Linked DNA regions of Homo sapiens: all the other regions are linked to region 1. The links come from fine-mapping of genetic effects on gene expression. A gene starts in region 1. Each other region holds a variant in brackets. All regions are shown on one strand. Distances are between the middles of the regions.

Evidence for each region.
Region 2: its variant is fine-mapped to the expression of GTF2E2 in whole blood (TOPMed, PIP above 0.99).
Region 3: its variant is fine-mapped to the expression of GTF2E2 in whole blood (TOPMed, PIP 0.97).

What each region holds. Positions count from the first base shown.
Region 1 is chr8:30,653,935-30,662,115 of GRCh38, reverse strand. It overlaps GTF2E2 (general transcription factor IIE subunit 2), which reads left to right and starts at 3,880. Exons shown (of 8, transcript NM_002095.6): 1 at 3,880-4,143. RefSeq lists enhancers at 3,337-4,008, 4,680-5,351 and silencers at 3,786-4,195, 4,206-4,295.
Region 2 is chr8:30,628,140-30,636,320 of GRCh38, reverse strand. GTF2E2 (general transcription factor IIE subunit 2) reads left to right here. Exons shown (of 8, transcript NM_002095.6): 3 at 1,198-1,289. Among named protein-coding and RNA genes, the nearest start is that of SMIM18, 6.4 kb to the left of the region's middle. RefSeq lists an enhancer at 5,919-5,978. The variant G/T (reference allele first, on the strand shown) is at 5,150.
Region 3 is chr8:30,571,807-30,579,987 of GRCh38, reverse strand. RBPMS (RNA binding protein, mRNA processing factor) reads right to left here. Exons shown (of 9, transcript NM_001008710.3): 9 at 7,732-8,181. It overlaps GTF2E2 (general transcription factor IIE subunit 2), which reads left to right. Exons shown (of 8, transcript NM_002095.6): 8 at 951-1,670. The coding sequence ends at 1,067. Among named protein-coding and RNA genes, the nearest start is that of SMIM18, 63 kb to the left of the region's middle. RefSeq lists a silencer at 4,186-4,235. The variant G/C (reference allele first, on the strand shown) is at 3,651.

The DNA of each region.
Region 1 (8,181 bases):
TGGCTTTGAACTGGAAGGACATCTTCAGTCATCTGTGCCTCCAAGTTGGCTGCACATCTTGGGACTTGTCAGCCTCCATAATGACATGAGAAATCCCTCTCTGGCTGGGCGCAGTGGCTCACGCCTGTAATTGCAGCACTTTGGGAGGCCAAGGCAGGCAGATCACTTGAGGTCAGGAGTTCAAGACCAGCCTGGCCAACATGGTGAAACCCCGTCTCTACTAAAAATACAAAAATTAGCCAGGTGTGGTAGTGCGCACCTGTAATTCCAGCTACTCAGGAGGCTGAGACAGGAGAATTGCTTGAACCTGTGAGGTGGAGGTTGCAGAGAGCTGAGAACGTGCTATTGCACTCCAGTCTGGGTGACAGAGTGAGACTGTGTCTTAAATGATAAATAAATACATCCCTCTCTAACTCTGTCTCTATTTCTTTTTTTTCCTCTCTCGGTCTCTCTCTCCTTCTGTCTACACACACGCACACACACATATCCTATTTGCTATTTCTCTGGAAAACTCTAATACACTGATGTAGCAAAAATCATGAAATACATAAATGTTATGAGAAATTATTTTCTTTATTATGATAATTATTATGGAAGTTGATCATAAACACCTAGTATTGCATGCTAAGATATGACGGTTATCAAAGAGAAAACTTGAAAGAAAGTTTGAATTATGGAACGACTTCTTATTTGTTTCTGCAAGGTAAGAAGCTAGTTTGGTCCCAACTTTTTAAAGATGTGAGTTCACTCTTTGCTCACTCATGTGTTCGAGGTAGGCTACTCCCTCCCCATCTCCAGAAAGGTGAATCAAAATTTGTTTCAGGTTGTCACGGTAGTTTCTTTCCCTTTCATGGGGATTGATTGGTTTAGATGAGGTATGTGACTCCATCCTGGCCAATAACTACCTGGGGAAAGTCTACATATGTGTGTGTGTGTGTGTGTGTGTGTGTGAGAGAGAGAGAGAGAGTGTGTGTGTGTGTGTGCAGTGATGGGGTTTGGCTCTCTGTTAGAGGTTTTTTGCTTTCTTTTTTGAGATGGAGTCTTGCTCTGTCACCCAGGCTGGAGTGTAGGGGCACGATCTCGGCTCACTGCAACCTCTGACTCCCCGGTTCAAGTGATTCTCCTGCCTCACCCTCCTGAGTAGCTGGGATTACAGGTGCCCGCCACCACACACTAATTTTTGTATTTTTTAGTAGAGACGGAGTTTCACCATGTTGGCCAGCCTGGTCTTGAACTCCTGACCTCAAGTGATCCGCCTGCCTCGGCCTCCCAAAGTGCTGGGATTACAGGCATGAGCCACCACGGCCGGCCAGAGGTACTTTCAATTTTTCATCTGCCAGGCAGAAAAATGGGGGTGAGGGGTTGCAAAGGGAGCAGCCTCTGGTCCTTTTGTTACTTGGGTGTGGAAAATTAGGGTTTTCCTTTTGATTTAGCTCTTTCTAGGGAGTCAGCGTGAATTGGCCTTAGGTTCTCTGCTTCCAGACCCTATTCTCCTGCCTCAGAATGAATGAAGCCATTGCTTTCAGTGTTAAGACCTAGACACATGCAACAGGCAGTATAAGCAGGAGTTTGTAATGTAATAAGGTTTCCTGGGGTTTGTATGAGAGGGTTTCAATGATATTAATAACAAGAGCTAACTTCTGGGTAAAGGGGACACAATTGAGATTTGAGAGTCTGGATTATAGATAGTACATTCTGATATTATTAGTAGCTTAGCTGTTTCAACTGGCTGAAATGAGTCAAGATATTGACATGAAATTACTCACTGTAAGCGTTTATTGAGCACCTTCTTTGTGAAAGATTTAATTCTGTAAAGATTCTCTAATTGTTAGATTTCTAAGTCTCAAGGGAAGAGATAGTGAATATGTGTCAAAGTTTTATTTAACGCAAGAAATGTAGACCTGCCAAGTGAGAACAGAGACTATTCAGAGCTTGCTATAGCAATAGGGGCAGCGACCACACTTGAGTTTGGCAGAGACTCAAAAGCAATCGGGAAGAGGGGAGACTTTACAGTGGAGGAAAAAAGGGATGCTTCTGATGTGTTCTGATTTAGGGATGTTGGCAGGGGAAGCTGGAAGTTGTCTAACTTGAAGCAGGAAACTTAACAGGATTGGTTTGGGAAGAATATTTGGCTTTCTCTGGCTGATACTGGTGTCTGAGGACAGAGAGGTTAAAATAGAAAAGTTGGCAGCCTTCTTGAGAAAATTCTGACCATTTTGAGCTGATTGCTGTAGAGGTTATGGTTTGGCTTATGTGAGTTAGAGTGTTATTATCATATGCGGTTTAGCCATTGTCCATATGTATAAGTCTCTCACTCATTAATAAGGGAGCCAGCAGAATCATAAAACGGATTTCTACCAGTTCTGAAAAATGATATTTATATAATCGTTGGGGAAAGGAATGCTGAAATAAAACTGCTCAGTTGATACAAAACCGGTTAATTTTTCTCAGAAAAATGCAACCTTAACCTTTGGAATTTTATCTATCTATCTATCTATCTATCTATCTATCTATCTATCTATCTATCTATATACACACTGAATTCCCTGCCCCTTTTTCCCCTAACACCTCATCAGTTTCCTACCAATTGATGTTTGATTTCATCCTTTTGTAAATCTTCTGGGCCCTAATCAATTGTTATTCAAACAAAGTTACATTTCCTGTGGGTGTCAGATGATCAAGTAGGCTTATTACAAAATTCTCTAGAATGAAACTAATAAAAGTCACAAAATATTATCTTTTGACTTTTTTCCAAGTTTTGAATAAAATTTTAGGTATTTTCTCACTTAATTTTCACCACAGTCCAATGCAAGTAACTCATTGTAGTAGTACAATGATTATCCCCATTTCCCCGATGAGAAAACTGAGCCACAGTTTCAGTAACTTGAAGAGTAACCAGTAATTCAACGACAGCCACAGAATGGCTGAGCACTGGCTGTACTGCCGCTTTAGGTTATAAGAGTGAGGGAAGGCCTGCCACGCTGCAGGTTTCGGGCAATGAAATTATTTTTTCCACTGCTTTATTTCCACCCATTTATCTGGCTTCTAAATCCAAAATCCTTTTCTAAGACAGTTCACAGGGGTGGAGGGAAGAGGCTGGGCTGTGCTCCACATCAGGCTGCCTTTGCTAGCTGTGTTGTCTTGAGCAAGTCATTTATTAATTAGCTTCCTGGCCCTCTGTTCTTCGCTTGTAAAAGAGCTGGAACCGCGTTCTCGGTGTGCAGGTGCTGGTGTGTGGCGCTGGGGTAAACTCACAAAATAACCGTTGAGGCCGGGCGCGGTGGCTCACGCCTGTAATCCCAGCACTTTGGGAAGACGAGGCGGGCAAATCGCTTGAATTCAGGAGTTCGAGACCAGCCTGGGCAACATTGTGAGACCCTATTAATACAAACAACAACAACAATAATAACCAAAAATAGTCCGTCGTGGTGGCACTCGCCTGTGATCCCAGCTACTCCGGAGGCTGAGGTGGGAGAATGGCTTGAGCCCAGGAGCGGAGGTTGCAGTGAGCCGAGATCGCGCCACTGCCCTCCAGCCTGGGTGACCGAGTGAGATCACGTCTCTAATAAGAAAAAGACAAAAAACACAAAGTAACCATTGAAAGATAGCGTCGTCGGCTGGGTTCACCACATCCCAGCGCACGCCGGAGCAGGCTGTAGCAGTTTTAATAAAGTGTCTATAAAGAAAGCTGCCTTCCATCTTCAGTGGCGCCGCCTCCCACTTCAGTCCCCTTCTCGGCCCCACCCCAGCCCTTCCCTCGTTGTCATGGAGGCCCCAGGACGCCAGAGCGGGATAGTTCCGCTCCCGCGGCACCAGAGGCGGGGCACGCAATGACGCATGCGCTCGCTTGGCTGCCCTGGCGCCGCGGTGGCTGCCGGGACTGAGCTCCTAGCACCCGATCGGGAAGTGGCGGGCGGAGTCCCGGGTCCAGTCGCCGCCTCAGCTACCGCCGCTGCCGCCGCCGCCGCCGCCACCGCCAGTGGTGAGACCCCGACCTGGCGGGTCAGCGCTGGGCGTGCGTGCGGGCAGGCGGGGGCGCTGACGAGAAGCAGGAAGAGGGTGCAGTGCCGGCGTGGGCGGCCGGCCGAGGCGGAGGCGCAGGAAGGGGGCGGCGAGTCGTGCGAGGCTGCCCTTCTCACTCAGGTAGGGGCTGCGGCCGCCGGGTGTGGGGCGCAGAGCCCCGGCTTGCTGTTCCCTGGGACGCAGGCGCGCCGCCGCCTCCCGGGAGGCTGAGCGTGACCTCCACCTCACGGGAAGCTGGGACCGCCGTTCTCGAAGCGAAACACCCAGCACGCGAACCGTTCCCCGGAGCATTGTCTTTAGGCCAGAGGTTCATTGAGCAAACTTTTGGGTTGGAAAGAGGGAAAATTCGCGGTCTGCCGCCTGACTGTGCCTCTTCCAAGCCTCCAAGTTCACGGGCGCGGTAGCCAAGCGAACCGTGTGTGGAGTTTGAGCAGCCGCGGGGTCCAGCCAGCTCAAGACTGTGATTTAAAATGATGCTCATACGCGGACTGCTTTCTAGGCTACCTTTTGGAGATTTGGTTTGTGATGATCCCTAAACTTTAACGATAGTAGTTGATTTCTGCAGTCTAAACAACGCTGCGGCCCCCTTTTCGCCCACCTCCCCACTTCCGTCATTTAAGGGCGAAGCAGCCTGCTTTTCATAGCCGGGTCCTGAGGTGCCAGGGACACTAACGAGGCTGGGTAAAAGTGAAAGAGAGGGGAAGTAGTAAGGTTGAAAGAGGTCGAATGGTGGCAAGAATCGTGGGCTTGGAGGCAGATTTCAGTTTAATTTTTGGGTTTTCCGTGTCTGCCCACGGAGGAACCAGCCAACTCCTTGAGTTGTGGTTTTGTTTAATTGTAAAATGGACATGGTGATGTAGCCTGTTTACTCCATAGGGGGGTCCAGAGATCTAAAACTTAGTACACATATTGGGTAGTCTTTGAAAAAGGAGGAAAAGTTAGGCGGAGCACGTGATGGTGAAAGACAGACATTGCGAAGCTTTCTGCTCTAGATGCCTTTGAACGTTCCCGAACCTCACAGGTGGCCTTTGTTTTAAAGGCCTTTACCAGCGTTCCAGGTCTGGTGTAAGGAGCACTTGAGTTAGGAGTCAGGAGGTTTGGTTCCTGGCCCTGGCTCTTCCATCTGTGCGACCTTAACCAGACAGCTTCACTTCAGATTTCACGTATTAAAATAGGAATAACACTAATACCTGTTTGCTCCTAGAGTTGCGAGGGTCAAATACTGTAAGCATTTAGTTTGTTGTAAACTGTACGGCTTTATTTACTTTTTTTTTTTTTTTTTTCTGAGACGGAGTCTCGCACTGTCGCCCGGGCTGGAGTGCAGTGGCGCGATCTTGGCTTACTGCAAGCTCCACGTCCCTGGTTCAAGCGATTCTCCTGCCTCAGCCTCCCAAGTAGTTGGGATTACAGGCACCCGCAACGACACCCTGCACATTTTTTAAATTTTTAATGGAGACGGAGTTTCACCATGTTGGCCAGACTCGTCTAGAACTCCTGACCTCGTGATCCGCCCTCCTCGGCCTCCCAAAGTGCTGGGATTACAGGCGTGAGCCGCTGCGCCCGGCCTATTTAAATCTTTTAGAGTAATTTTTTTAAAGTCCAGATTGAGGTCCTGCCTTTGCAACGTGAAATAAGACACAAATGTTTCCTGTTCTAGAAATTTACTTTTTGCTCCCACCTTCTCACTTGACAATTCTCCTTTCTTCTTCTTGGCCCCACGCTTTCCCTCCTCCCAAGGCTGTCTCCTACTTTCCTCAGCCCGGTAAATCATTCCCTTCTTTCAGATCCAACTCAAAATAGTAATACTGAAATAACACGTTTTTATGACTTTACTGTTTAAAAAATAACATACACATTTTCTCATTCTTACAATTGGGCTGGATGTGGACAGCTTTCATAGCGTCCTCATTTCACTTATGAAATTGAATGTAGAGGCCTTGTGGGTTGCCTAGCCAGGTGGCTTTAGGAATTGAAACTGAGGCCGGGTGCGGTGACTCACGCCTGTAATCTAAGCACTTTGGGAGGCTGAGGTGGGCGGATCACTTGAGGTCAGGAGTTCAAGATCAGCTTGGCCAACATGGTGAATGAACCCCGTCTCTACTAAAAATACAGACATTGGCGGGGCGTGGTGCTGCGCGCCTGTAGTCCCAGCTACTCGGGAGGCTGAGCCAGGAGAATCGCTTGAGCCCAGGAGGCGGAGGTTGCATTGAGCCGAGATTGCACCACTGCACTCTGCCAGCCTGGGCGGCAGAGCGAGACTCTGTCTCAAAAAAAAAGAAAAAAAAATTGAAACTGAGAGAAGGCAGGTTTTTGATTCACCGTCCAGTGATTGTTCACGCCTTAATTGAAATTCAGTCTGATTATTTCTTATCAATGCTTATATTTAAAATTTTTAGCTCAATGCTTCCATTTTCTCAAATCTAAGCAGCATGTAGACAAGGATTTATCTTCCGTAACCTTTCAAAGCTTAGAGCACAGTGCCTCACAAACAAGATATTTAATAAAGGCTTGTGAAACCAGTAATAATGGGACCAGAGCAATTTAAAGATGATGTTCCATGTGTTGTTCATTTAACAAATATTTATTGAGCTATCTGTGCTTAAAAGCTTTCAAAGTATGAGTCTTTTTCCTCCCAGCTGACACTAGTCTTAACAGTGTCAAATTCATTTATATAGTCAGCTTGAGGTCTTCATAGACCCTCTGTAGGGTTCTAGCAGAGTTCAGAAGAGAGGTGTGTTTAGAATTCTTGTTGGTTGACCTGTAGCTTCCCTGGTTGTAGTGAAATTGCTTTGAGTTGTAATTTTAGAACTAGACAAACAACAACCACAACATAGAAGTTGCCTCAAACCACCTCCCTCCAAATTGGAAATTTTCTGTAGACTTTTTTTTTTTTTTTGAGACAGAGTTTTGCTGTATCCCCCAGGCTGGAGGGCAGTGGCGGGATCTCAGCTTACTGCAACCTCTGCTGGACTCAAACAGTTCTCGTGTCTCAGCGTTCTGAGTAGCCCGGACTACACGTATGTGTCACTATGACTGGCTAATTTCGTAGAGATAGGGTTTCACTATGTTGCCCAGGCTGGTCTCTCAGCCTCCCAAAGTGCTGGGATTACAGACATGAGCCACTGTGCCCGGCTCTCTGTAGACATTTCTAACAAATAGTATAATAATTCAGCCTCTTCATCACTTAATAATTGAGAGTTCACCAGTTGTAAAAATATGCCATTTTATGTATAAGCAGTTCTGATGGTTCTCTTTTTTTGCAGTGAGCCTAAATCCACCTTCTTCTAATTTCTGCCCTGTAGTCCTCATGTTTCTACAGCAGTGTTGTCCAATAGAAATATAATGGGAGTGGGAAGTGTGAGCCACACGTGTAATTAAAAATATTCTAGGCTGGGTGCAGTGGCTCATGTTTGTAATCCTAGTGCTTTGGGAGACTGAGGTAGGAGGATTGCTTGAGGCCAGGAGTTCAAGACCAGCCTGGGCAACATAGCAAGACCTTGTCTCTAAAAAGTTTTTAAAAAAATTAACTGTGTGTGGTGGCGTGTACCTGTAGTACTAGCTAGTCAGGAGGCTGAGGTGGGAGGATTGCTTGAGCCCAGGAGTTCAAGGCTACATTGAGCTATGATCACACCACTGTACTCCAGCCTGGGCAACACAGTGAGACACTGTCTCTTAATTTTTTTTTAATAGCCATATTTTAAAAGAAAAATTGGTGAAATTAATTTTAACATTTTATTTAACCCAGTATATTCAAAATAGTATCACTTCAACATGTAATTAATGTAAAATATCTCGTTAGTAATTAAATAGTTTTTTTCTTTATACTAAATCTTTGAAATCTTGTGGGTTTTTACACTTGAAAGTCCATCTCAATTTTAACTAGCCACATTTCACATGTTTAATAGGCACATGTGGCTAGTGGCTAATATATTGGACAGCACAGTTCTGGAACTTTAGGGAATAATTCTGTTTCTTTTCTTTCTTTCTTTTTTTTTTTTTTTTTTGAACAAGGGTCTTGGTCTGTCACCCAGGCTAGAGTGCAGTGGCATTATCACAGCTCACTGCAGCCTTGACCTTCCAGGCTGAAGTGATCCTCCCACTTCCGCCTCCCGAGTAGCTGGGACTGTAAGCACACATCACCATGCCTGCCTGATTTTT
Region 2 (8,181 bases), 26 kb after region 1:
TTTTACTTAACCTCTCTCTTTGTGGATCAGCCACATGGGAACTTTATAATATCTGATCTCATGCCTTGCTAATAGAATGTGTACTTCTAAAATGTTTTTCTAGTATTTATGATGGATTTTTTACTGTTCCTGGTTATGACTAATGGAATGCATTTGTGATGCAGTGGTGACATTAGGGTTTCTGCTTGTAAGAATGCAACAAAATGATAGATATTTTGAAACAAATGATCTTTTGTACAGGGTTTTCCACACCAGATAGAGAAGGAGAGGGGGGTGTTTCTCAAAGTGGGTGGGTAGTGCTGTGATGCTTTTTAAAGTAAGCATCCATGTTCATGCAGTGGCAGTGCCTGTGGCTTTTTATTCCTAATTTATCTGTAAAGTTTACTTTAAAATAATTGTGATATCTTTTTTCTATTAGTTTCCATTAATTCCTATTTTTTTGGTCTTAAATTGGTAAGCAGAAATTGATGTAAAAAGTGGTATATTGAACTTTTCTTCCCTCAGAAGTAATCCACTCCTTGTGTTAGCTTTATGGATGGGATTGAGGTTTGTATTGTTTCCTTGTTTAATAAAGTGTACTTCTGATTATGGAGCGAGTCTAATCAGAGTTAAGATAAGAATGAGATAAAGGAGAAAGGGGCCTGGTGCAGTAGCTCACACCTGTAACCCCAGCACTTTGGGAGGCTGAGATGGGTGAATCTCTTGAGTCCAGGAGTTTGAGACCAGCCTGGGCAACATGGCGAAACCCCATCTCTACAAAAAATAAAAAAATTAGCCAGGCATGGTGGTGTGCACCTGTAGTCCCAGCCTCTCAGAAGGCTGAGGTGGGAGAATCACCTGAGCCTGGGAAGTTGAGGGTGTAGTGAGCTGTGATTGTGCCATTGAACTTCAGCCTGGGCAATGGGAATGCGACCCTGTCTCAAAAAATATAATAAAAAATAATGTGATAAAGATATTTATAAAAGAATTGTGGTTTGGTGTTTTAAGTTATTTATACTTTGTTTCTACCCTTAGTGAGAAAATTGGTACTTTAATGTATATACTCAAAGATTGTGTATTTTTCACCAGAATATTACAGGGTAGAATATACTAGATGAAAAACTCAAGAAATATGTTACCAGCATTAAAATTATTTTAGCTGCTCAAGAGTCATAATCACACATAATATGACGATGTTATTTTGAACTTCATTTGCAGATCATAGCAATGGATCATTTAACTTGAAAGCTTTGTCAGGAAGCTCTGGATATAAGTTTGGTGTTCTTGCTAAGATTGTGAATTACATGAAGGTAAGTACTTTTCTCAGATAGCAAAAGTCCTATTTAACTTTTTGGCAAAAGAAGGAGATTAGGGTTTTCAGAAGTTAAATTTCTGTATACATCAAAATTTATCAAAATTGTGCATTTTCAGTATGTGCAGTTTATTGTATGCCAATTATACCTCAAGCCTTTTACATTGTATTAATTTGGCATTGTGGCGAGTTACCAAAGCATATTTAATCTGCATTAACTCAAGGGTACAGTTTAAGCTCACCATTTCACTTAATAAGAGTGTGCCTAGGCAGTAGGTATATCACCTCTTAATGAATACAGGCTGGCAAAACCAATGGGAGGATGTGATTGATTTTTCAGGTTATTACTTCCATTGATGTGAGAAGTAAAAAGTACATAGTTCAGGCAGATGATGGTGATGGCTTCTCTGCATCTTGGAGGAGAAAATTAGACATTTACTGAGAGTCTTAGAAAAACATTGACTCACAAAAGAATTAGAATTTAATGTTTGATGGAAGGTTTAGTATTTTTTGAATACAAAGTTTTGATCATATAAGATTTTGGCTTTACTTTGAATCTTTTTTTTTCCCTTTTCTTTTTTTTTGAGACAGTCTTGCTCCGTTACCCAGGCTGGAGTGCAGTGGCACGATCGTAGCTCACTGCAGCCTTGAACTCCTGTGGTCAAGTGATCCTCCTGCCTCAGCCTCCCAAGTAGCTGGGACTACAGGCATGCACCACCATGCCTGGCTAATTTTCTTATTTTTAGAAGAGACGAAGTCTCACTGTGTTGTCCAGGCTGGTCTCGAACTCCTAAGCTCATGTGATTTTCCCACCTCGGTCTCCCAAAGTGTTTGGCTTTCAGGCATGAGCCACTATGCCTGACCAAGACTTTGAATCTTAACTAAATTTATTAAAGCGGGATTTCATTTTTAGCTAAGATGGCTAAGTAATTTCAAATTTGCTCCCTTCTTTTGCCAAACTCTTATTCACGATTAGTTACTAGTTGCATCTCTTGAAAAAGACAGTACTATATTTGTTATTTTAATTTCATCCATCTATTGGTTAAAATATAAATCAGATTTTTAACTGTGCTAAGGCTTTTCTTTTGTAATTTAATAGACTTAGTGTCTAGCTGAGTCTAAATTCTGTGGTTTGTATTTGGGTTATAGTATAAATATGTTAGTATATAACTCCCCATTATTAAATAATGTATTTTGACACGTAAGTATTCACTGTTGATTCATTTCATCCATTTATTCCCCCACATGGTAAGCAGTTATGAAAATCTATTGGCTGTTTAGGGCACTAATGGTGGGAATACCCAGAAAAAAATGCCACCCTCAGGGCTGTCACTCTGTTGAGGGACACTGACATTTAAGTGTCATGTTTTTGCTACTCTGTTAATATGGTCTTCACTTCCCTATGTGGCTTACTTATAACTTTGTCTGTCTTAGAACAGTGAACTTCAGAATTTTTACTTGTGCTCCCTACAGTTTGAAAAACTGTGTACCCCTTTGTACATATTTAAGTTGATAACTACACTCTGTTAGCAAAGTTTAAATAGTGGCACTATTCAAGCAAAAATTTAAATGATGACCAGAAATACAGAATTTCTGGCATATTGTAGTATTTCAATAAAATATATCACTTTTAAATTTATCTAATGGAATCTAAATGTCATTATTTAAAAGTATAAAAACAAACTCCCTTAATGATTGGGAATTTTAATTATTTTTTCTTTGAATATTTGTGTCCCATCTGTTACTCCCTTTGAATTTTATCCAAATGTTATGTATTTTTATCTTTCAAATCATTTATTGATCATCTATCAAACTTTTCTGCCACAATAATATGTAAATAAATTGAAATATAAATCAAAATTTAAAATGTTTTTCCTATGACCGTAAAGCTCTAAGTGTTAAAAATAACTTACGGTTTGAGTTATTTTTACAATTATTGGTGCACAGTTGATTAGAATAACATACATAGATTAAAATTTTGATTAAATTCACTTTGTATCAGAAATTTATTCTTAAATGAATGCAGCTGTCTCCTCTCTTCCTTCATTAGTTCTTGTGTTTGGCAAATCTGTTCGTGTTTTGAGATTTTGTAGAATTTAAGTGCTTAGACATAAATGTTCAAATATATAAGTTAATTCTAATGGAAATTTTGTGATATCAGAATCTTCCAAGTTATATGTCAAAAATCACTAGTGATTTTATCATCAAGCATCCATTAGTTAATGCTTCTGTTAGGTCCTCCTTCAGTTTTATTGAAAGCAAAAGAATGGAAACCACCCAACTTGCCAAAGGATTTGTTACCTAGTGCTTAACCATTTATTTTCTTAGCTTCTAGGAAGCATATCAAAAAGGCTTATCAAATGTCTTATATCAGTTCCCCTCCCTCCCTTCATAGGTACTTTCTTTAAAATCTGATATATTCAGAAGCAGTTGAGAAAATAGAAATACTGTTAATTTTAATATAGCTTTGTGAATTTTTATTATAATTGTTTTATGTGTTTAAAATATATTTTTGTGAAAACTTTTAGTATGAAGGTTTAGCTTATTCAATTTTTAGAAAATATCTCCTAGTTAACAAAGCCAGTCTCCATTGTCAAACCAACTAGCCATAACAAACTTGCTTTGAATCATAAAATTTTCCTCTATTTTAAATTTCAAATAAATAGATTACCAGATATTTTGGATAATATGAAAACCACTGAGGAATAAATTATGGAATGCATACTAAAAGATACTGCTAAGGTATTTGAGCTGAAAATTATATGACTGAAAAAGAATTACAGTAATTTGTCAATTTTTGTAATAATTTAAACATTTCTGCGCTGCTTGTCATGTTAGATTAAAAATTAAATCAGTTAAAATATGAAGCAAGGGATATGATAAAAGTTGTGTTATTCCTTTATTTATTTATTTGTTTTTGAGACAGGGTCTTAACTCTGTCACCTAGGCTAGAGTGCATTGGCACCATCCTGGCTCACTGCAGCCTCGATCTCCTAGCCTCAAGTGATCCTCCCACCTCAACCTCCCAAGTAACTGGGACTACAGGCACGTGCCACCATGCCTGGCTAATTTTTGTATTTTTTTTGTAGAGACAGGGTCTCTCAGTGTTGCCCAGCTTGGTCTTGAACTCCTGGGCTCAGGGGATCCCTCAAGTGATCCGCCTGCCTCAGCCTCCTGAAGTGCTGGGATTACAGGCGTGAGCCACTAGACCTGGCCTGTTACTCCTTTTTAAATGTGTGTTCCTGCATCTTCTGATCTCTGATCTCAGCTATTAGGTATAAATAAAAGGGAATGAATCAGAAGTAACCTTACATTTTTATTTGGGTAATTAATGAAAGAGATACCTACTGCTTCAAACTACTCAGTATGACAGCTAGCATATCTTATTTTTTGTCAGTAGAAGGTAGAAATATTAAACTGTTGAAAAACTATAATGAGAATTGACTAATTAGAATAAAACTTTAATGATACGATTTGACAAAATAGATTTTAACTACCATATTGAGTAATGCACACTCAATCTAAAGTAATTTCTATACAGCTTTTATATAGCACAATTTGAATGACTTGGCAGTCCTAGAAAGTATTTCTTTTATATTTAAAGGAATCAGCCTCCCTAATTGATATTGTTCCAGCTCTCTAAATATGCTTTTTCTTCAAGCTAATAAATATTCAGGGAATGAGTTTTGAGAATTACTTATATTTAAATTCTCGGCCCAGCACAGTGGCTCACACCTGTATTCTCAGCGCTTTGGGAGGCTGAGGCAGGTGGATCACTTGAGTTTGAGACCAGCCTGGCCAACATGGTGAAACCCCGTCTCTACTAAAAATACAAAAAGAAATTAACCAGGTGTGTTG[G/T]CACATGCCTGTAACCGCAGCTACTTTAGAGGCTGAGAATCACATGAGCCTGGGAGGTGGAAGTTGCAATGAGCCAAGATTGCACCACTGTACTCCAGCCTGGGCGACACATTGAGACCTTGTCGCTAATAAAAAAATAAGAATTCTTGAAAAAAATATTTCTTTTTATCTTTTTTTTAACCAGTGTTCTCTGTGCATTACTTTTATCATACTGTCCCCTAAGAGCAATGCGTTCTTGGACAATACTGAATGGAGGTGGGGGTGTAGGGGGAATGGTTGTTAGAGGAAACTTTAAACAATTGCTCACAGATTATGATAGATTAGAATGTTCCAGCAGGGGCCAAAATATTTTAAACTCTTTGAAAAATATGTGACTGGAAAAGACAAGAAGCCCAGTAATGGATAGTTTACGGCACCTCAGTTACCATTCACGAATGCTTCCCTGAAACCATTTTTTTGGCTTGTCTGTTTGTTTGGGTCCCTGGAGTTTATTATTCCTTCAGGCTCTGCATCACAAATTCTGAATGGAGGTGAGATTACTTTTTCATGGCGGGGGGAGGTGGAAGGTAAAGAGAAGGGCTTATTTTGAAAGGGAAGAAGTACATTTGGAAGGTATCTGTAAACAGATTCTTGGAAAGTCTCCCACTGTCTTTTGTGTACCTTTAGAAAGAAAGCAAAAGAAAGGCAACAGAAATGCTCCTTATAGTTGATTCATTTAATAGGGAAACTGTTTAATTGCTTAATAAGAATGATTTAGAAACTGTGGAAAAAGTTCCAGGGGAGGCATTAGATAGGTACAGTGAGATTTATAGCAGATAGTCATAACTTTGGACAAAGTACTAAATAGAAAGATGAAAGGCAGATACAGGAACTTCAGAGTCATAATACTGAGAACATGCAGTGGAGGGGACAAACTGCCCACCTCATCTCACCAGCTCCTGAGATGGTTACTATCATACCATAGCTCAGTAATTTACGTTGGAACAGTAACTGAGACATCAAAAAAGATTAAATTATGTTCAGTGACCTGGTTAAGATGAAAGAGGAACTTTATGGTTTATTTTAGGAGGATTTTTACAGAAATGGTTAATGTAAAACAAATTTTATTGCTTAAAGGAGTAAGTTTTAAAAGCACTCCAAGTTATCTCGAAAATCCCCTTAGGATGCCTCTTTCTTCATATGAGACAGCACTTTAATTCTCAGATGACAAATTAAGTGTGTACTTTATTTTTGATAAAATGATTTTTCTCTTGATTTCAGCATTATTCCTTATGTCTCGGTTATGTAAAACACTATGTTGAAAAATCTGGGTTAATTTGGCTTATTCTAGCTTAGTGTTTCTCCAGTGTCATTCTCCAGCCAGCAGTATCAGCATCACCTGGGAACTTGTTAGAAATGCAAATTCTTGGGCCCCTTTCCAGACCTATTGAATTTGAAACTCTGGGAGTATAGCTCAACAGTCTTTTTTTTTTTTTTTTTTTTTGAGATGGAATCTTGCTCTGTCACCCAGGCTGGAGTGCAGTGGTGCGATCTTGGCTCATTGCAAGCTCTACCTCCTGGGTTCACGCCATTCTCCTGCCTTAGCCTCCCGAGGAGCTGGGACTACAGGCGCCTGCCACCACGCCTGGCTAATTTTTTTGTATTTTTTTAGTAGAGACGGGGTTTCACCGTGTTAGCCAGGATGGTCTGGATCTCCTGACCTTGTGATCTGCCCGTCTCAGCCTCCCAAAGTGCTGGGATTACAGGCGTGAGCAACAGTCTGTTTTTAAAAAAGCCCTTCAAGTGATTGTGATACATGCTGAAGTTTGAGAATCACTGGCCTAACTTCTGTCTGAATTACTTCTGACAATTATTTTTGAATTTAGAAACTCTGGAGTCCATAGACATTAAATGACTGGCTCATAGACACAGTTCTGGTCCATAGTAGGACTGGGTCAAGAATATGGATCTATTTCCAGTTTTAAATAAAAGTATTTAAATTATATGACAATATCTCTACTAAATACAGGTATAAAAATTTTTTAAAATATATGAACCAATTTAATCTGTTCAAATATAAGATATGAATATATATGTCCATAGATCTGATAATACATTGTGATGGAGTAAAGTTTAGGAATGTATGAGTGGTTAATATTTGAAAATTAATTAGTGTAAGTTATATTAACAGAATAAAGAAAAATCATGATCTCTTAGTGGATATAGAAAAAGTTGCTGGTAAAATTTTTTTTTTTTTTTTTTGAGACGGAGTCTCACTCTCTTGCCCAGGCTGGAGTGCAGTGGCACTGTCTCAGCTTACCGTAACCTCCGCCTCCCGGGTTCAAGCGATTCTCCTGCCTCAGCCTCCTAAGTAGCTGGGATTACAGGCGTGTGCCACCACACCCGGCTAATTTTTTGTATTTTTAGTAGAGATGAGGTTTCACCGTGTTAGCCAGGATGGGCTTGATCTCCTAACTTCGTGATCTGCCTGCCTCGGCCTCTCAAAATGCTGGGATTACAGGCGTGAGCCAACATGCCCAGCCTCTGGTAAAATTTAATACCAATTTATTATAAAAACTTGCAGCAAATTAGTAGAGGCAAAGTTCCTCAATGCAATAGAGCAGCCTTTCTCAATCTTCTTACTCTGGAGGAACCCTTGAAATAATTTTCAGGTCTCAGAGAACCCATGCAAAGAATTGCTATACCTCCGAGTTCACATTTATTAACCTAATCAGTAAGTTGTGGACATGATAAGTTAATAATAATTGTCAGTGCTCTTTTGACAGGAGAATATTTTTGTCTTTGCATTTATTTCGCCCAGCTTATTAGCCTGCTCTTTGTGTGTGTGGTTGCTCCCTACTCCCCAGGAAGGATCTCCACTCTTGTGCAAGTCAGTAGTATAGGCAGAGGAAACCTCAGTTTTTTTCTTTTTTAAAATTTTCTACTTGATTTCTTTTCTCACCTGATCAAAGTAGGCAACTTACTTGTTCTCAGTTGGGCAGAAGCTTGGGATAAGAAAGGAACCTTCACCCAGGTTCACATTTGTGTTGAAA
Region 3 (8,181 bases), 82 kb after region 1:
AAGCCCTTCTCCCTATTCTTAAAGGGATGCTGTGCCTTGATCTGCACAACCTTTCAGACTTGAACGGGGCCCTCCCCTGCTCCGTGAGCCTCGCCGTCCTGGTGCCTGGTTCTGCCATAGTAACTTTCAGGTCCTCTAGGAACCAGATATTTTTGTCCGTATAGTCTCTAAATCCTGCTCACAGGGGATGTTAGTAATTAAATGATGACTTTTACATTGCCTTGCACCAGCAAATAAAATCTGTAGTCTAAGAACAAAGCCCGGGGGGATGATTCACCAGCACCCTTGTTAGCAGTGCTGTGCTCCTCCCCCCTTTCCTTATCCACCGTCATGCTTCATAGCTTGTCACCTGTGTCTTTCTGGGGTGTGGGGTGGGCATGTGTGTTTGGTGAATTTTTAGGACTCACCTAAAGGGAAGCTTTATTGTCAATCTCTTTCCACAAATGAGTGTAATTGCAGCCCTTCATGATTTCCTATTATTGTCTCATTTGTTAATTTTTTTCATCATGTGATGCTAATATTTCAAGTATATAGAAAAGAATAGAGAATATTACAGACCTTCATGTGCTCCTCCTTTCTCAGGATTTTGCCATATTTTCTTCAGATCTTTTTAAAATCGGTAATGGTGGATACGTTTTTAAACCTGATGACAGAGACAGAGCTGAAGGGCTTCATCGTCCCTTTTGTTTGACTTAGTGCCTAGAACCATTTTGGCAGGTTTTTGTGCCTGCTCCTTCATTCCCGATGGCATCTGCATCTCAGGGGAACAAAGGCCCGGGGTCTGGTCAGGGCGTGTGCTGTGCCCCATGTGTGCTGCTGGGTGGCAGAGCAGGAGAAGGGTCCGAACCTGGCATCCTCAGCCACTGGCATCTGGGCATGCTCAGAACATCCTGGCCACACCACCCCTCAGAGCAGCTGTTGTTTCTAATTGTTTTTACCTTTTCCTTTAGGCCCCTATTCAGAGAAGGAAAAAGCCTGCTTCACAGAAAAAGCGACGCTTTAAGACTCATAACGAACACTTGGCTGGAGTGCTGAAGGATTACTCTGACATTACTTCCAGCAAATAGGGAACAGTTTTGCCCTGGAACAGAGTTACAGATACACAATCAAGAGTGTTCTTGCTGATGCTCGGGGTCTGAAGACTGTCTTCCTATCTGCTTCTTGCGGCTGAGGAGAGGAGCAGTTCAGTTTACAAAACAAGTGCAAATTACCAAACTCAAAGCTTATTTGAGTAGAATGGGCTCATGGGCAATGTGATGTTCCCTGTTAACCTTCTGTTACTCCCTGGGAGAAAGGCGCTGAGCGTGGCATGCAGGTGTCTTTGCTGTGTTTTTCTCCACTTCTAAATGGTTCCTGGTTCCTTTCTTCCTCGTTTGTTACTTTAGAGCAAGTTTGCCCATAGTCTTGAATGCAATATTTGTTTATTCCAAAAGAACATATTTATAATAAAATCACTGTAGAAGGATTTTTAAGATGTTAGTGAATTCTGTTTCTTTTCATTCTCGGAAATGGCAGGAAGCAGCTCCAGTCTCTGATTTCCATGGGTCACGTGCTGGGGATGTGATGAAGCCTGCAGTCTGCACTGTGTTGCTGAGCACATGGATTTCACCACTGGAACACAGGTGTGCTGCTTGTTAGCAAGCAGAGCAATAAAGATGTGCTGGATGTCATTGTTAATGTTTTCTTTTAAAAAGAAGCGTCAGTGTCAGCCGGGCAAGCTGGCTCACGCCTGTAATCCCAGCACTTTGGGAGGCTGAGGCAGGTGGATCACGAGGTTAAAAGATCGAGACCATCCCGGCCAACATGGTGAAACCCTGTCTCTACTAAAAATATAAAAATTAGCTGGGCGTTGGGGCATGTGCCTGTACTCCTAGCTACTTGGGAGGCTGAGGCAGGAGAATCACTTGAACCCGGGAGGCGGAGGTTGCAGTGAGCTGAGATCGTGCCACTGCACTCCAGCCTGGTGACAGAACGAGACTCCGTCTTAAAAAAAAAAAAAAAGTATCAGTGTCCAGCTTCTTGGGTTTGGTAAATTCCAGGATGGCAAGCCTTTGTAGTGTCTCCTCGTCAACCTGAACGTCAGCTATACCATGCCTCCACCCTCATGTGGCCTGACCGGAGATGGTTCTGGTGGAGATGCCCTCTGTCACCGGCCCAGCTCATGAGAGCCATTACCAAATATGTGAGTGTTCTTTAGAGTGAGGGTGACTCACGGGAAATTCACATGGTTCTGCTTTCTACGGCAAAGTTTGCATTTTCCTCACCTGCACTGTTTATGTTCTGCTGTGGTCCTTTGTGCTGGTGGTCATGGTCCTCCCGTCACAGCATGGGATAGTAGTGGATTAGGAAACGAGGTGTTGGTTCTCAGAAAAGGCATGATGGAAACCCAGAGCAGGAAGTGCTTTGTGCAGACGACAAAGAACCTTTTTTTGCTTTTTCAGTTGTTTTCTCTTTTCTACTTACCTCTCATCCCTTTACAGTGTTATCTGTTTGCTTTACCTCTTTCTTACCTCCAAGCCCCAAAACATGGCAGGAGAGGATGTAACTGAGGTTCCCACGATAATTTAGAACACAGGAAATACAGCCTGTCTTGCTTTGTATAAGGTTTTTTTCTGGTAAGGAAGAGCTTTAATATCTTATGGCATGAAACTAGCTTTCCTGTAAAAAATCTAGAGTTAGCTTATCTCCAGGTAGGTACCTACTTTTGTGATCTCCACACTCCATCTTATTTTATGGGCCAGGTCTGGAAGTACAGTTTGGACATCTCATCTGCTTTGCAGGGAGATGGGCATCAGGGCCTCCGTCGTGGGCTCTGTGATCAGGTTCTCCATCTCTGTGATAAGGCGCTTACTGCCAGTTGTGTTATTGGTTGTGACTTCTAGCAATGCCTGTGCTCAGCAGTACTTCGTGGGCTGGCCTGATAATTGATTTCAGTTATTTTGTCTAAAATTCATTTCAGAAATGAAGATCTAGCAAAATGAAGTGACTCACTAAATTGCTGTACTCAACAAAATTCCGTAGCTTTATCTCATTCACTTGCAGTTTCTTTTGTTAAGCCTCGACCCACTCAGTCTACTACATGTAAGAGCAAATCCTCCATATACCCCATCTCAAGGTACTGGGGTTGCATCATCGGGTGACATGTTGAGGATACAGTGTTTGTGGGAACACTGATGGAAGGTTACTTGTGTTGGACGGTCATATTACAGGCACACCTCATTTTATTGTACTTGCTTTATGTGTTTTCACAGATACAGTGGAGTTTCTTTTCCATATTGAAGGTTTGTGGGAACCCTGCTTCAAGCAGATCTGTTGGTGCCGTTTTTCCAACAGCATGTGCTCACTTTTTGGCAATAATATATTTTAAATTAAAGTATATAATTGGATTCTTTAAGACATAATGCTATTGCTCACTTTCTACTATCATGTAGCATAAACATTTTAATATGCACTGGGAAACCAAAACATTTGTGTGACCCACTTTACTGTGATATTTGCTTTATTGCGATGGCCTGGAACCAAGTCTGCAGCATCTCCGAGGGATGCTATACAGAGAAGCTGTCTCTTCGCAGTTCTTCTGGGTGTCTGAAAACATATCCACCAGAAACACCAAGTTGAAGTCATGTTCTCGCCTCTGCCCGTTTCTGGTG[G/C]CTCTGCTGGCCATTTAGAAGCACGTGGGAATGGCACGGCTCGGTGAGTTAAGAGGGTATGACAGTCGGGAGTGCATTTGATCTATAATTCATCACCATGATGTGAGGCTTTTAGGGGATAGCTAAGGGAAATGTAGTCAAGCCTGGACAGAGTGTAAAAACCGAACATTTGGCTGCTGCTGTCACAGCCTGTAAATGTGGCCAGATGATGGTGGGACCCAGGGGACAGAGTGGCACTTGACACCTGTTGAGCAGAGGCTTAGTGGAAAGGCAGCGCAGGACATCCCGTTCCTTCCAGCCCCAGCGTTCAAGGGACTGCGAGTGGACAGCCCTGTCTTTATCTGTGAGCCGTTTGAAATCTGTAGCAGTAGAATGGGATTGTCAGTGTGGACGGTTTTGTGGGATGAGGGCATTTGGTTTATCAGTTCCCTGATTCTTAGTTAATAGTGATTTTCTGAGGCATAGAGGATGAGACTCAGTGTCTCTTCCCTGTAGCCACGGGTTTTACTTTCAGATGACTCATTTGTGGGGAGGATTTGGGGTTTTCTAAGGTTTGGTTGACTGTTGACAAGCTCAGCCTGGTGCCGCGCCTTCTGCAGCGAGGCGGAGCAGCCCTCCTGGACCTTCCTGCAGGTTCGAGGTCTCTCAGGGTGGTTTTTGTGGGCTTGTCCTGAGAGATGAGAAGGTGTTCTGTGGGAGTTGTGGTGGGATGGTCCAAGGACCTCTTGGAAACCATTTTTCAGACTAACTGGACCGTAGAACACCCATCCCTGTCCTGTCTGGAGTGTTGGGGGAAGCACCGCTGGAAACTCAAAGAGCTAGACGGCCCTGGCTGGCGCTGTACGGTTGGCCCCCCTCTGGCTGCAGTGTAAAGAACGACAGTGCATTTTGCTTCCCTGGATTTCCATTAGAAATAAATGTGGATCCTGCTCTTCAGCAGATGGGGAGGGGACTAATCCAACTCCACTGGTTGGGGATGGGACCAGCACATTTGTGTGACTTAACCATGTGGTTCTGAGACCCTGGTGAAAGCCCAGTGACTTTTCATCTGGCCACAACTTCGTGGGGCTTGCATGTCAAGGGAGAAAAGGCAAAGACTTTCCTTTAAAGAAAACACAGAAGGGTGCCAGCAGGGGATAACTGAGTGAACCATATCCTGATTTAGGCGGGACCAGCTCTAGAAGCGCCAAGAGCAGGTTTGTCCCGTGGGTGGTGATTGTGAGGTTTTGAAGTGCCTGCTAAGCCCCCACGCCAAAGCTTATGTTGTAGTTTTAAAAAGTGCTCTTTTGTCCAGGTAAATCTTTTATTTAACTCGTGCATCATTTCTCATTGCATTTAGGCCTTCCTTTTTGCTCAGAAGAGAAGTTTGGGTTGACTTTAAGCATTTGGCCCAAGTTCCTAACTTGGAATTAACGACCATGGGCAGAGTTCCACGTGAATTTCTCAACTGGACAAGTGGAACACAAGGACCCGAATTTTCTCTTCCCCTCAGATCGTCCATAGGTGAGATGTATGTGAACAGTGGTGGAGAATGGAAGCCTTCACTGTTTTGTTTATGTTTACCAGCAAATTATTACGGTTTGTAGGAAGAGCTCCCTCCTCCCTCGCCCCCCAAATAGGAATGAGTTTGAACTGAGGGTCAGGAAGAGGTAAGTGGCAGGTTCGTTGGAGAGCTGCAGAGGGGCCTAGTTCTCACAGCACACTGGCATCTCTCAGGATTGGGTAGCTATGGAGCCAGGCCAGTTCACACAAGAGTTAATATTAGTTCCATCTGGGATGTTCTACAGCAGGGACAGATAGCTTTACAGTGGCAGTTATTGAAATTTCCTAATTTAGTGCTCTTGATCAAATTGCTGACAACATACAGTTTTTCATTATCATAGTTATTAGAGTTTTAGGAGAGGCATTTATTGAGGATGAGTGTTTTAAATAACACCTCACTGGTAATGAATATTCTTAGGTTTTCTATGCAGGCTGTAAAGTTGTTTTATGCCATGAGGTTTTATGCCATGAGGGTGTGGAGAGAATGGTTTAAGAGTTGGAGAGGAGAGCAACTGTGTGCCAGAACCTTCCATCTGGGTGGGTGAGAGTGCTTTTGGGAACCTGTCCATATTCTTAGCACAGATCATGTCTTGCCCAAAGCGCTCAGAAACAACTAGTTGAATTTGGACATGGTGGCACGCGCCTATAGTCCCAGCTACTCAGGAGGCTGAGGCAGGAGGATGGCTTGAGTCCAGGAGTTCGAGGCTGCAAGTGAGCTGTGAATCTGCCACTGCACTCCAGTCTGGAGACCCCGTCCCTTAAAAAAAACCTTACTTCTTTATGTCATCTTGACAGACACCAAGAATTCTTGTGTATTGGAACGCAGAATTCAGGGATGGGGCAATAACAATTGCAAGCTAGTCCATGAAAGTAGGGTGGAGACATGTGCATGCCCTGGGTCCAGCTGAGTCTGAAGCCCAGGTGTGATTAATTGGCAATGTAGCGTTCACTTTGTGAACTGCAAGGTTCTTTTCACATTCCTTTAATTTGTAATTTTGTTATAGACGTGGAAAGCATGGTATTTAATTTCAGATGCCACTTTTATAGTTATATCAGTTCGACATTAACAAGGGTTCATTTGGTAATCACACAAAAAGATGGGCTTAGTTACCATCTTTCTGGAGCCTACAAATTGGGACATTTTGCATGGGAGCAAGAGCAAACAGCCTGCCTTTTTCGTATTCCAAGTTCTTGATTCCAGAAGACATACTGCATTCCTTCCTGTTCAATAGAGTGACAAAAAGGGTAACTTCGCACAGACCCTAATGAAGCTGGTATCTGGCTGGTGAGTGGAAATATATCTGGAGGTCACACTAGATTAGTAAATACCATCCAGACTTGTCACTTGCACATCATGAATGACTATCATCAGCATGGGGAAGATTGGGGTGCTCATCCATCCCAGGGCCCCCTGTAAAAAATCATAGGTGACTGTGTTCAGCCAGTGACTGGCTGGGATGGAGTCCGGGCAGTCCCGAGGCAGCAAAACCCCTTAAGAGCTCACTAGCCTCCATTCCTTAGCTGTTTGGCCAATCTCTGGTGCCTATGAGTTGGAGCTCACAGGTGGACCAAAGGCAGATCAGGCGGGCCTGAGAGCCATGCTGGCGTGGCCTTCTAAGCCTGGGCCCAGGAAAGCGTTTGGCCTCTACAGTTACGTAAGTTGGAAGGCAGTGGACACAACCTACGTTTGGTGGCTAGGCTCTTCTGCAGGCAGGCTGTGAGAGCTTCACTGCGGGTCATCTCAGTACCCAGCAAGACTCAGTAGTGGTTGTTGCCACTGCTTGGATGTTTTTTTTTTTTTTTTGCTTTCTTTCTCCTTTGGGGGGAAAAAAGAGTAGGTGAGAGTATATATAAAACACGATTCTCTTGGCAATTGGTGCCTGGTTTTCCACTTTTTTTTTTTTTTTAATTTTTTATGGTTTTGGAGTCAGGGTCTTGCCCTGTTGCCGAGGCTTCAGTGCAGTGGAGCAGTCATGGCTCACTGCAGCCTCGACCTCTTGGGCTCAAGTTGTCTTTCCTCTGTGGTCCCCCGAGTAGCTAGGACCACAGGTGCTAGTACTCCTGGCTAATGTTAAAATTGAGGGTCTTGCTGTGTTGTCCAGGCTGGTCTCAAACTCCTGGGATCAAGCAAGCCTCCTGCCTCAGTTTCCCAGTGTTGGGATTACAGGTGTGAGCCACCATGCCTGGCGTAAGATATATTTAAGTCAGCAGAAAACCCAAGTGACATTTTAATATAATTCAGATAATCCTGAGTCAAGCTTTGTAGGCTGAGGTAGATGAGGGGCCTCCCTTGAGGTCCCTCTGCCTCTGGTGTCATTGTGGGTCACCAGCCACTGTGGTTGTGCGTTTGCAGACTTACTCTCTGGCTTTCCCCGGTATCTGCTTCCTCCTTTAATCTCTTTGTGCCTAAGCTCAATGGCCAATGCTTGCTTAGCTCTGCCGAAGCCTGACAATGGGAATGAAATCTGCTGGCGTCTTGTCTGCAGTGTGGGATACATGTAGTTGGTCTTGCTAAAAAAGAATTTGTCAAGCAATGGTGTGACAGCTGGAATAAGCACTTTATTTTTTAAAAATGACAATAGAAAAGTACCTTTAAACAGTTATAAAAGCATAATAGACTGCAGAAGTGGCTATTTTCCTTAGGAGTACAGTCATCTCACCAAGAGCCGATTGGCACTGAGGGCATAAGCAGGTCCTTGAACACCAAAGTGGATCCGTCACAAGTCCTTGAGCTAACTGCCTTTTCCCCTTATTTACGGTAAGAAAGAGCCCCTCACTCCTGGCCTTGGTTTTTTGTGTTGACCTTTAAAAGCTTCTTGACATCTTTATATTTCTAATGGAAAATAACAAAACAAAAACCCAAACCAACCAGGTAATCATGACATTGAAATTTTCAACATAAGCCGAGCGGATCAATAGGAAAGACTGTGTTTGGCAGCTGAATTTAGGTCAGTGTGGTTTTACAAAAATGGCTTCTGTACAAGGGGAG